3 linked regions of the Homo sapiens genome follow. The protein of the gene in region 3 interacts with the protein of the main gene of each other region in a pairwise test. Each region holds a gene or a part of one and is shown on either strand. Other genes may lie near its edges.

Evidence for each region.
Region 1: the proteins of MSI2 (region 3) and QKI interact in a two-hybrid assay, tested with the Homo sapiens proteins (one large-scale study listed by BioGRID).
Region 2: the proteins of MSI2 (region 3) and MBNL2 interact in a two-hybrid assay, tested with the Homo sapiens proteins (one large-scale study listed by BioGRID).

The regions. Positions count from the first base shown.
Region 1 is NC_000006.12:163,571,592-163,575,243, forward strand, and holds part of QKI (KH domain-containing RNA-binding protein QKI), read left to right. Parts: 3' UTR 1-3,652. UniProt on the Homo sapiens protein: RNA reader protein, which recognizes and binds specific RNAs, thereby regulating RNA metabolic processes, such as pre-mRNA splicing, circular RNA (circRNA) formation, mRNA export, mRNA stability and/or translation.
Region 2 is NC_000013.11:97,220,818-97,225,141, reverse strand, and holds the start of MBNL2 (muscleblind-like protein 2), read right to left. Parts: upstream 2,810-4,324; 5' UTR 2,611-2,809; intron 1-2,610. UniProt on the Homo sapiens protein: Mediates pre-mRNA alternative splicing regulation. Acts either as activator or repressor of splicing on specific pre-mRNA targets. Inhibits cardiac troponin-T (TNNT2) pre-mRNA exon inclusion but induces insulin receptor (IR) pre-mRNA exon inclusion in muscle.
Region 3 is NC_000017.11:57,612,880-57,616,531, forward strand, and holds part of MSI2 (RNA-binding protein Musashi homolog 2), read left to right. Parts: intron 1-3,090; coding exon 3,091-3,205; intron 3,206-3,652.

The sequences.
Region 1 (3,652 bases), on a different chromosome or scaffold from region 3:
TGTAGATAAAGTGTAGTGCATTGAAACAAATGAACAAAAAGTAGATACTTTTACTATACAAGGGTGCTGGTGCAGAAAAAAATATATATATTTTTGGAAATGTAGCATTTTATACTTTCAAGTGTTATAAAAAAAAAGAAAAAGAACAAAGAAACCCTTTATTTCATTAAATGATTTTTTCTGGTGGTTGTCAAGAAACAAAAGACCAAAAGAGCCTTTTTGTCTTTCTTTTTTATTTTTTAAGTATTGGAATAAGTCTAAAGAAAAGAAAGTGCCTTATTTTCCTTCATGGTCATTCAGTCAAGTGTCTCATAAAGATCAGCTCCTCCCTCAGAATACAAGTTAATGCATGTTACTCAGTCGCCCAGTATGTGAAAGAAGATATGAGGGAGACAAATGAGTTGATAGTTTGAATTATAGGATTTTTGCCACGTTACCTTGATGCAAATTTGCCAAATCTGATACTGTGAAAAGATTTGATAACTTTTCTAATGCCTGACTAGTAAGTTTTAAAACATCATTCTTTAAAAGAATAGTTTAATACTTTTGGTTATTCCAATCTTCAATGTTAACCCAAAGGATTCTGAGATAAAAATTATGTGTCATCTAAACTTCAGTTTACAGACAAAATTAGAGCTTTGTTTTATTTGGAGAAGGGGGATGCATTCATTTGATTTTGTTTTTTGTTTTTAATTAATTGAATATAATAGGATACCTAGCAAATGTTTTCACAAAAGTGAATCTTTGTGATTTTCATTCTAGAAAACAATGTTTTAAATCACCCAAATTTAATCACATGTCTTTATATCATACCAGATAACTGGTGTAGTGTATCCTTTTACTGTTTCAATAACCTCTGCCTCCCCCACCCCTTAACTTTAAAAGAATGTGAAAAACTAGCATCATAGTGCATATAAATACTCAACCACATTTCAGCTTAAGCTTCTAATTTCTCAAGAAGTTGAAACAGTTAGTTATGTAGTTGAAGCAATTTGTGTGCAAAGCCTACATCTAAACACTTGAGTGAATAATCATTAACTGCTCAGTACCAGACGTGGCAAATCTCAAGTGACAGTGGACCCCCCCCCCCGCCCAGCTTATCAACTCGTCCCCTCTTCCACACCTTCCCAGCATCACAGTCAGAGGTCAGCAGGAAGCTGAGTCATTACCTTCTTGGTGACCTCCCCCACCATCTTGTCTCACTTGGAAACCGTTGTCAGTTTATTTACTATGCAATAGACATTCATTGTTTTGTATCCAGCTAGCTTTGGTTTAATATGCCACTGCTTTGTCTTTCTGTTACACATACAGTTTTGATTTATTTACAATATATGCTGTGCCATTTTGATTTTTATATTGTTTGGTTGGTTGAATAAATTTGCGACACTCAAACACTTGAGGTGATAGTTGTTAAAAACAATACCAGTATTTGATCCAGTTTCATCTCAACTATGTTATACCTGGACATTTTAGATGTTTATCAAAGGTCTTTTATGGGGAAGAAAGTAAATGTATGAAATAATAAATGTGTGACATTTATAGGGAATGTTGGCTCTGAACAAACTTTTGAAAACTTGGTTGACAAAATTTTGGATCAACTGAAAAAAGCATGACTTTTGAAATCTCTGAATGCCTTGGTTCTCAGTATTATCATTCTTTATTGAATTTATTTCTTATTAAAATATGTAGTTTTTAAGACTTTTTTTCTGACAGTATTATGTAATTTTTTAGCGTGGGTAGATGGGAGTGTCGCTTGTATGTTATCGTACAGCTGACATGTATTTTTGTCTATTCTTTATTATCTTAGTTTCATGCTATGTATGTACCATAACCAACCTATTGCCTATGAGAAACATGTAAGATAATGTATTTACAGCCATTGTTACAAGTTTATAATGTATTTTTCTATCTTGTTTTATATGTATGTTATATAACATTCAAAAAGAATTTTTTTCTTGATTGAGAAAAGGATACAAAATGCAAAATCCACAATTTTGATAACTGAAAATTGCCAATTGTTTTGCAGTACTTTATTATATTGGGTGTCTTGTCTTTTTTGGGCTTTTAGTTAGCTAATGAATGAATACATTAGACACTTTTGGGTTTTAGTTGGGATTTTACATAGCTTGCATTTTAATTCTTTGGTTCTTTGCTGTTTCTATTAACCCACAGCATTATTTTAATAAATGTTATAATACCAACCTACTAACTCTGGACTTTGTCTGTTTATTAACCTTTATATGTTTAATTAAAATAAACAAATAAAGACAAAAGAATGTAAAGTCTTGAGTTACTGGACTAACCCTGAAGAACGTGACCACAGATAACATAGTGTGACTTGTTTTTATGTTGTTTGTCAGCTGACAGTTTTGCACACTACTGTTAAAATGGCTTTGGTTATTCTGGTCTTTTAGCTTGGGGGCCGGGGCGGGTGTGGGTGTAGGTGCAGTAGAGATGGGAACAAAGTAGCCTTTGTTTGAGGCATTCTTCTCTTGCCACTTGCCTTTCAGCATCTGCATTACTAATTCCACACCTTATTTTTCCTTCTCCAAAATAATCACTGTCTGCTCACAGCATCGAGTAAAAAGATACATTGTCATGGTATATACCTGGAGAAACCAGTTTGATTCTTTGTTGAACCATTTCTTTTAATTTCTGTAAATAAGTAATTTTATGGTCACATTGTAAAGCAGAGAAACTGTTGATATTTTACCTTTATTTAGATTTTTGTTTTAACTTGACCTTTTTCCTTTGGAAAGCGTTGAACTTGTTTAGCTAACTACTCCTATTAGGGGAGCTTAACTTGGGTAAAGTCAAAGGCCCACTGGCTGTTTCTCATGGTGGCCTGAAGCCCCGCTGCTTTCCAGTGAGGAAAAGAACCCTCAGCACGTTACTGAGCTTTCCTCAGGTATTTTTTTCTCTGTCACCTACTTTACAAATACAGTCAGACTAAAACATTAAACAAGAAGTTTAAGGGGGAATAACATTGGGATTTGAAAAGTTGTATGTGATTAATTTCTTGCATGCAAATCAATTTAAGATTTCTTAAATATCTTCATGCTTTTCTTGGCTGGAACTTGGGTAAATTAACCTGTAATTATGAATTATTTAGTTTAACTCAAGGTGCATTTTTATTTCACAGATTGATACTTGCTTTTTTCTGTGAAACAGTTCTCCTAGATACCAAAATCCTCAGGATGAATTTTTGCATTTGTAAATAACAATTTATCTTTGTAAATTACATTTTATTTATTTAGAGTTCTAAAATTGAGGGCTGAAATGAATGACATGTAATAGAAGACAAAACTGTACCAATACGCTGTTAACCAATCAGACTGTCCAGGTATTCTCATTTCATAAATATGTATACACACATATAAATACACAGAGTAGTGTTAGCTGATGTGAGTGATAACAGCGAATCACCATTGAGATGGTCATTTGGATCATGTAAACAAACCGTGTCATGTCTCTGATGGGAGCGGTGGGTAGTGTACTGTTAGGTGGACAGGTCTTTTAACATGCTACTATTTGTAAAAGTTTCCGTTGCCATAACAGTTCATGTAGTAGTCTGTGAAAATTCGAAGCTGTCTGTCAAGCTGCTAATATACAAGTTGTCATGGTACCATGTAACTTAAATTGATGAATTTCT
Region 2 (4,324 bases), on a different chromosome or scaffold from region 3:
ATATTGATTTGTTTTCACCATAGCAACAGCAAATTGAAACAACTAGCAGAGAGAAGGCAGGCTGTTAACCAGTAAAGCTACCTAACCAGTATATTTCACAAGCATATTTTTCTCCTTCCCTCTTGTTTTTTCTCTTATTTACTCCACTTTCACAAATTTAACACAAAAGTCAAAGGAAAAACAGCATTAAATGTTTTGGGCACTACAAGGCCTGTGGCCAGAATAGTGTGCTTTGCAGAGCTTCTAGTATATTAGATTAGATCGATGGAAAAAATGCAAACAACAACGCTTTGATTTCCTTGGAAATTTCATTTGTTGAACTAAGAAAAAGTATCCCTAAAAAATTTACATGAGCACAAAGTAGAGTGAAGGGTTTTGTGTATATGACTATGTATCTTAATACTCTAAGGTGTTTGCCAACAGTTTCTTAATACCGAGGTTTTATCCCTTTGTACTTTAAATAGCTCAATGTGCCAAGAGACAAACAACTTTTTTTTTTTTTTTTTTTTTTTTGGTAAAAGGTCAAGGTCTCAAAATGCTAAATGATGAGGGAAAGTGTAGCAAGTATGATTCAATTCTATTAAAAGACAGAAAAATCAAGGTAGGCACTTGCTCAAAACTACGTGAGTAGTCAGAGAGGAGACACAAATTAGCTTTGGGAACTCCCGAGAACTCCAATGTGCTCCAGTCAAAATCTTTTTTAAAAGGTTCCTTTGTAAACATTACCCTTCCCCCGATCTCTGTGACCAAGGTTGCCACCTGTGACATGGATTTGCAGCCTGCAGTATTGTACTTCCCCTGCTTGGGGCCATCTGTGCTAGGACATGATGATTTTTCTATGAAAGCAGCTGTTCTCACCATCACAACCAGCCTTGAACTTGGTGGCACAACCTGGATCCTAAATAGTGGCTCTGGAGCAACTGGGAATAGGGCCCCGGGGACCATCCACCCAGGTGGCAGCGCTGGGCTGCACCAAGGGGGAGTCAGGCCAGAAAAAAAGCTTTGCCCTGCTCCCTGCTGCTTTTTGCCAGCCCAGCCAGAAGCCCTGCAGAAAACCTGTGCTGACCGGCCCGACATGTGGCAGGTACAAGAAGATGCCCTATTTATGAGGGGACAGGTTTACAATTTACAAAAGACAGGCGAAAATATAAAGACATAACTTAAGTCCTGCCAGTGGGGAGTTAGAATGTTCCTGGCCAGGACATAAAGAAATATTCCTCTCCACAAGCTCGAATAAAGGAACACACAGCAGAAATAGTTGGGGGATGACGTCAGAAGTTCTGGGCTAGTGTCCTGCACTTCTCCTTGAAAGTAAAAACAGTGGGTCTAGAAGAATCTACGTGGCATTGCCCTTATTTAAATGAGTAGTTCTACTGCTCCTTGCAAAACAAGTAGGATAGCTGAAGAAACTTCCTCTTATTTAAAGATTATAAGAATGTTCCCCCTGCCTTTTTTAAAAACCTTATTGTCCCCAAAACACACACATTACCCAATTAACAAATAGCTTTCCACTTAACCTTTGTCTTTTAAAGGGACAGTAATGTTTCTTGTAGAACATTCAAGGTGGTGGTGGTTAGGCAAGTCAGATTTTTTTCTTCGCTTCAGTGCTTGCTAACTATTCTAAAAATGTTACACATTTATTGTAAACACATGCTTCCGAGGCCTAACAAAAAAGCACAGTTTCCTCATGCCTGGCAGAAATTTAAAACGGAAAAGGGCAGAAAGAATTCTTTAGCAAATATATCCTTTCCTTCTCCTGGGCCAAGTGTGTTAAAAATAAATCTTCTCCATCATTTCTCACTGCTGCTTCTCAGCGAGAAAGTTGATATGGTTCGGCATAGTGAAAACACAGCTTTAAAAGCTAGCCTGCCCTCATTAAATTATTCTGCTGGCTGTGTGTTCTCATTAAAAATGCATAAAGATCAGATAATTGCAGTAAGCATTATTAACCCAGCTTTACTTTTGAATATAATGGTTCCACTTTTAAGCTGGAAACAAAGGCTCAGACATGCCAGGAAAAGAAATGTAAACATTGAACTACAGTATCGAAAACTTGCCAGAAAGCTACCTCTTGCTAGGTTGTTTAAAATGTGCTTTTGAAACTCAATTAAAGCTGTAGCATTGTAGAGCTAGGTAGGTCCCTAATTTTTAATAAATAGACACATACGTTTGGCCAAACATTCAACCGATGATTATTTACCATGAATTTTTTTTTAATCCTTAATTGCAAGTCTGTTTTCAAATAATAGGATCCATGTAAACTTTATCTATTTGGGAACTAGCTATGGCAATATAACAATTTTTCACAGCAAGAAAATAAGATTGCTCCAAAGAATTCAAATGGTTTTTAAAAAATAATATAATAAATGAATCGATTCTTTGCATAAAAACTCGATTTCTTGCCTCACCCCAAACAGGCGGCATAGATTCAAGCTTTGCCATTTCTTTTTCTCAAATCAAAATGTTACGTAAAACTCCAGGGTCCCCCGCAAGTATTACAATTGAATTAGTGGAATCCAGTTTCCCTGGCTCCCGTAAGCAGCACACATGGAATGCAGCATACTGCAGCAAACTCTTTAAACATTCAAAAAAGGGGGGCGATTCTCCTACCTTGTTTAGCTCTGCCTGTCCTTCCCATTTACAGTAACCCCAGGAACATCTGGCAGAACCAAGTGGCCGAGGCTTCTCCACCGCATCATGAGAAAGAAACTTCCATGTAAATAGTTCTCATTCCCTGTTTATTGTACTCTGAAAGCCGTCTGCCGTATCTGGAAAATTTTACCTTCAGATGATGAAGCAAAGACAGTCTAAACTCTGTTGCTGTAAGCTGCAGCCCTTCCTTCCGACAAATCCCTCCCAGCCGGGGCCAGCCAATCCCCAGCCAGCTCGTCAGCCCTACTCGTCTGAAACTGGCCCTAATAGGATGACTGACACAGTAACACAGCACTTGCAGTGTGTAAAAACAGTGCATCCATACTGATGAAAGAGGAATTTCCCTCTCAGAAGAAAGCAATCATAGCACCAAGACAAAGTGGCACATAATTGGCAGAGCAGAGAGAGGGGTAGCTCAAGAAAACACCCTTGAAGACAGCCAGCTCGAAGCCAGGAGCTTCACCGTGAACACTTGGGAAAATGTGAAACTCCGCAGATTCCAAAGAAATCCAGGTTGTACATGAAACTGAAGTCCTTGGACTATCTGACAAAGCATATGTATATGTTTTTTAAAGGAAAAATAATTCAACGTCTGCCATGGCAGTTAATACCTTACAAAACATTTACATATTTCCATTATTGAGGAAGAATGTGCTAGCCCAAGTGCGTATTCAAAATCAAAACATGCTTATAGCTCTGGCACACACAGGTTTCCTGTATAACATCTGTTATTGCAGTGGTTAATTACTGCGGCCCATTTATCTTTCGTCTAAGTTTTCAGACCACTTGGGACTTCGATTAGGGAATGCTGGACAATAAAATTGATATCTATACACTACCCTTTTCTACTCTTGGCAGGCACCCACGAGAGGATTAGGTGTGCTTTAACCATCTTAGATGCCATTTGATAAATACTGTGCATTGGCTCACATTATCGTTAATGAAGCAATGATTATAGGAAGATGTTTACTGTTGAATACAAGGGGTACATGATCCAAGGGCCCCCATGAGGTGCCATTCCACAAAAGATGTTCTAGGAGGTGCTGGAGTTTCCTGAGATAAAGCAGAAGAAGAGAAAGTTTAGGAAGGGTTATTTATTTATTTATTTATTTATTTATTTCCCAGTCTACAGCATTTCTGTATGCCTTGAAAACAAAAACTCAAAAACATATGGCATTGAGCAAACACAACAAGCATACATTTTCCTCCCCTAAATACCACATTTTGAGAAAAAAAAAGTATGATGATTACATGATGAGACCAAGACAGAACAAAGCCTTTATTCATCTGAAAGGTTGAACCCAATGCACGATTTTTATAAGCAACTGTTCAGCGCATCTGTAATGAAGCAACAGAATGCAATGGAATGCTTTCTTTTTATTTTGCCATTGCATCTTAAAAACATAATATTTCATATAATTTCTAGGCTACTTTCTTCAATAACTACCATGCTTTATTCCCCTCAGTTTTTATACTTACATTCTTTGTCTTCCCCATGTAATTCTATCACATATCCTAACTTGCAGGCTTTCATCTACTGTAATACTTCTGGAAATTTAAATTAGTTCTGTGGTCAAACAGATACAAACTACTTTTAATTATTAATATACTTAAACAGATTTGTGATTCTCCTCTTCCTCATCTCCCTCTGCTGTCTTTGAAACTATCATTC
Region 3 (3,652 bases):
GGTGTTGGCTTTGGGTAATTATCTGTCTGCCTGTGCGAGACACGCCCATCTTCCTAGGCTTGGGGCAGGTTCATGCAAATGAGATTTCTCAGCCTGCTCCTCTGGAGTCCTGAAGCCAGTTTTCACCCCTGGGCTTAGGAGAGAAACCTAAAAGAGCCAATTTGGATGAGTTTGTTGTTTTCAATCACCTTTCCCCCCTACCTGCAATGACAATATTCTAATAGCCCTATCAGTGACAGTCTATTGCATTATCTTACAAAAACCTGCTCCCTGTTGCTTAGCAGAAAGCTTAGAAAATAACTAGCAAAATGCCCAATTAAAATTTAAAAACAGAGTGATTCTAAGACAACTTTAGTATGTCTTTTCAGTATTTTTCCCTATATGATATATGCACTTGTTTATTTTTCAAAAAGTCAGTGACATTTGCTGTTTTCCCGCTTGCAGTTAAAGAAACCCATCATCCTGGTTTGCCTGGGACTGAGGGGTTTCCCAGTACCAGTGCATGATTATTATCAACACACTTTTTCATAGCTGCATAGCATTCAATCAGTGTGGATAATCCAAACTCAGCTAATTCCCTGTTCTTCTATATTTTAGGTATTTCCTTTTATTAAAAAAAAAAATTCTAATTCCGGTAGGGCAAATTCCTAGAGGTAAGATTACTAGGTGTATGTATAAATTTATGGCTTTTGATGTAGTGTCTGGTTGCCCTCCAGAAAAATACGTGCCAATTTCCACCCCTCCACACTATACCGTCAGAAACCCTTACATCAAACAATGCTTTCATCACTGTCAATCTGTGGGCAAAAAATATGCTTCATCTTGGGGAATGTGTTCTTTATTAGCCGTCTGTGAATTGTCTACTCCTGTCTTTTACCCATGTCTGTTTTGGGATGCTCATCTCTTTTAATCTATAGAACTCTGTATTAAGCATATTAGTCATGAATGTTGAACCATTTTGTCCACTTTTTAAGGCATTTGTGGTTATTCTTGAAAGAGCAAGAGTAATACCTGTTGTCCGGTGTCTTTGAAGAAAGGTGACTTATATCTTAGGTAATTATAGCATCCCCCTAACCTTGAGCACTAAAATATTTTTTGATTGAAGTATTTGGGATGTGAGTATCTCCAAAATGGATAACCCATAGAGGTTCCTTTTTTATTTTCGTTTTATTTATTTTTTTTATTTTTTGAGATAGAGTCTCGCTCTGTCGCCCAGGCTGGAGTACAGTGGTGCGATCTCGGCTCACTACACCCTCCACCTCCCGGGTTCAAGCGATTCTTCTGCCTTAGCCTCCCAAGTAGCTGGGATTACAGGAGCATGCCACCACACCTGGCTAATTTTTTTGTATTTTTAGTAGAGACAGGGTTTTGCCACGATAGCCAGGCTGGTCTCGAACTCCTGGACTCAAGCAGTCTGCCTGCCTTAGCCTCCCAAAGTGTTGGGATTACAGGTGTGAGCCACCACGTCCGGCCTAGAGGTCTCTGTTTAAACAATGTATATTGCACACAGTTTAACTTTTTCTTGCTATCTCAGGCACACCTGTGAACAATAGCAATTTTCTGTGTTACAGTGATACCTCAGCAGCTGTTGAACTATGTAGAGCTTTTGTTCCTATACCATATGGCCCAGACTGCTCTTTAAATAAGATACCTGTTTCTTGTCTTTTCTCCGTCATTTAAATAAGATACCTGTTTCTTGTCTTTTCTCCGTCACTATCAGGCGGCCATGCTGTTTCTTTTGGCTGTTAAAAGCATCCGTGCCTTACCCTGCAACATCCCATCTTCATCAGCAGTGGGATTGATGACTGGCTAACAATGCTTGTTAAATTTCTCTGTAAACAAAAAGCAAATAAGTGCTAATAAGCACAGGCCTAAGGCGCTCTGGTAAAACAGTGAAGGAGCTTCCGAGGGCCACAGTTTTACTTATTCCCTGAGGTTTATAGTTCGCATAGTTAAGGTTATTAAATAAGTGACCTCTGGGTATACAAGCAGATTAGCATGAAGAAATTTGAGAGTCAGAAGGGAAACAGAAAGGGGAGATTAGCAACCACTTGAAAATGTAGCTGCAAATGAGAAACTAGTAATCCAGATGAACAGAATCAGTGTTTAATCTTATTACTTCCCTCAGGAGTGTGGTGGTGGTGTAGGTTTTGTGGAAATGTGGCATTGCTGACCTAGAAATTCTAAAGATCTGGTTTGTAGGCCTGAACCTGTTGGGGAGGGCTTTCAGCATGTTGCACAAGAATTTTTTTTTTTTTTTTTTTTTAAGACAGGGTCTCGCTGTGTCACCCAGGCTGGAGTGCAGTGGCGTGATCATGGCTCACTGCAGCCTTGACCTCCCAGACTCAGGTGATCCCCCTACCTCAGCCTCCCAGGTAGCTGGGACTACAGGTGTGTGCCACCACACCTGCCTAGTTTTTTGTATTTTTTTAGTACAGACGGGGTTTCACCATGTTGCCAGGCTGATCTGAAACGCCTGGGCTCAAGCTGATTCACCTGCCTCCACCTCCCACAGTGCTGGGATTACAAACATGATCCCCCACGCCCAGCCAACACAAAACTTCTGATGCTCTGTTTTCTCATCTGTGAACTGGAGCTAAGGCTAAGTGGTCTGTCTGTTTAATAAGAGTTTGAATCAGATGGCCTGGCATGAAGAGTCACTGGCCTGAGAGAATGTCAGGGGCATTTGTAAATGTGTAAAGGGCTGAAAAATCCTGAGGGATTATTATTATTGCTATTGTTGTTATTATTCACAGACACATCCAACAGCCATTGTCTGCCTCCTTATCTGTCATGCTTTCTGCACGAGCGTCAGCCTGAGCTTCAATCTGTGTGTATATCTGCAGCTTACGTCCTTGCCACCCCTCCAGAACCCAGTTTCATCCTTGTAGGTTTTTCCGAAGCAGGATTTGCACAAGTGGCGTGTTTTCTTAAGTATTTATTTTGCAGGCCATTTACTCGGCATGGCTATTTTTACAGTGGGTAAGGAGCAAGGCTAAAAATAACTTAGCTCATAACCAGACAGGTTCTGCATTTGACATTTACGTGGAATTCATTTGCATCTCATTTGTTCGCCTTTCTGTTTAACAGGTAGAATGTAAGAAAGCTCAGCCGAAAGAAGTCATGTTCCCACCTGGGACAAGAGGCCGGGCCCGGGGACTGCCTTACACCATGGACGCGTTCATGCTTGGCATGGGGATGCTGGGTGAGTCTGGACAGGACCGCAGGTCACCATGGACTGGGAGGGCTATGGAGGCCTCTACTCCCAACTGGGTCACCTACCAGTGGGGCAAACTGCTTCACCTTTCTAAGCCTCAGTTTCCTTGTCTGTAGATGAGGATGATAATTCCCCGTTCCAAGACAGTTGTGATGATTAAGTGTGGGTGTGTGTGTGTGCATGCATGTGTGTGTGTGTGTGTGTGTGTTTGTATTTATAATATTGCCCCATGCCTGGCTTATAGGATATGTTAGACTATTTTCTCTCTTTTCCATCTCCTTCCTCAAAAGAAGGAAAAGTCCCCCTCTATCTGCCTCAGCCCTCTCATCTGAGTGGGAGTTCTTAAGATGTAAGGACTCCTGGCTGACTTGACTTGTGTGGGCTAAGGCTACGTTTTCTAAAACTTGGGAGAGGAGGGAAGTGGTAAGGGTGGGC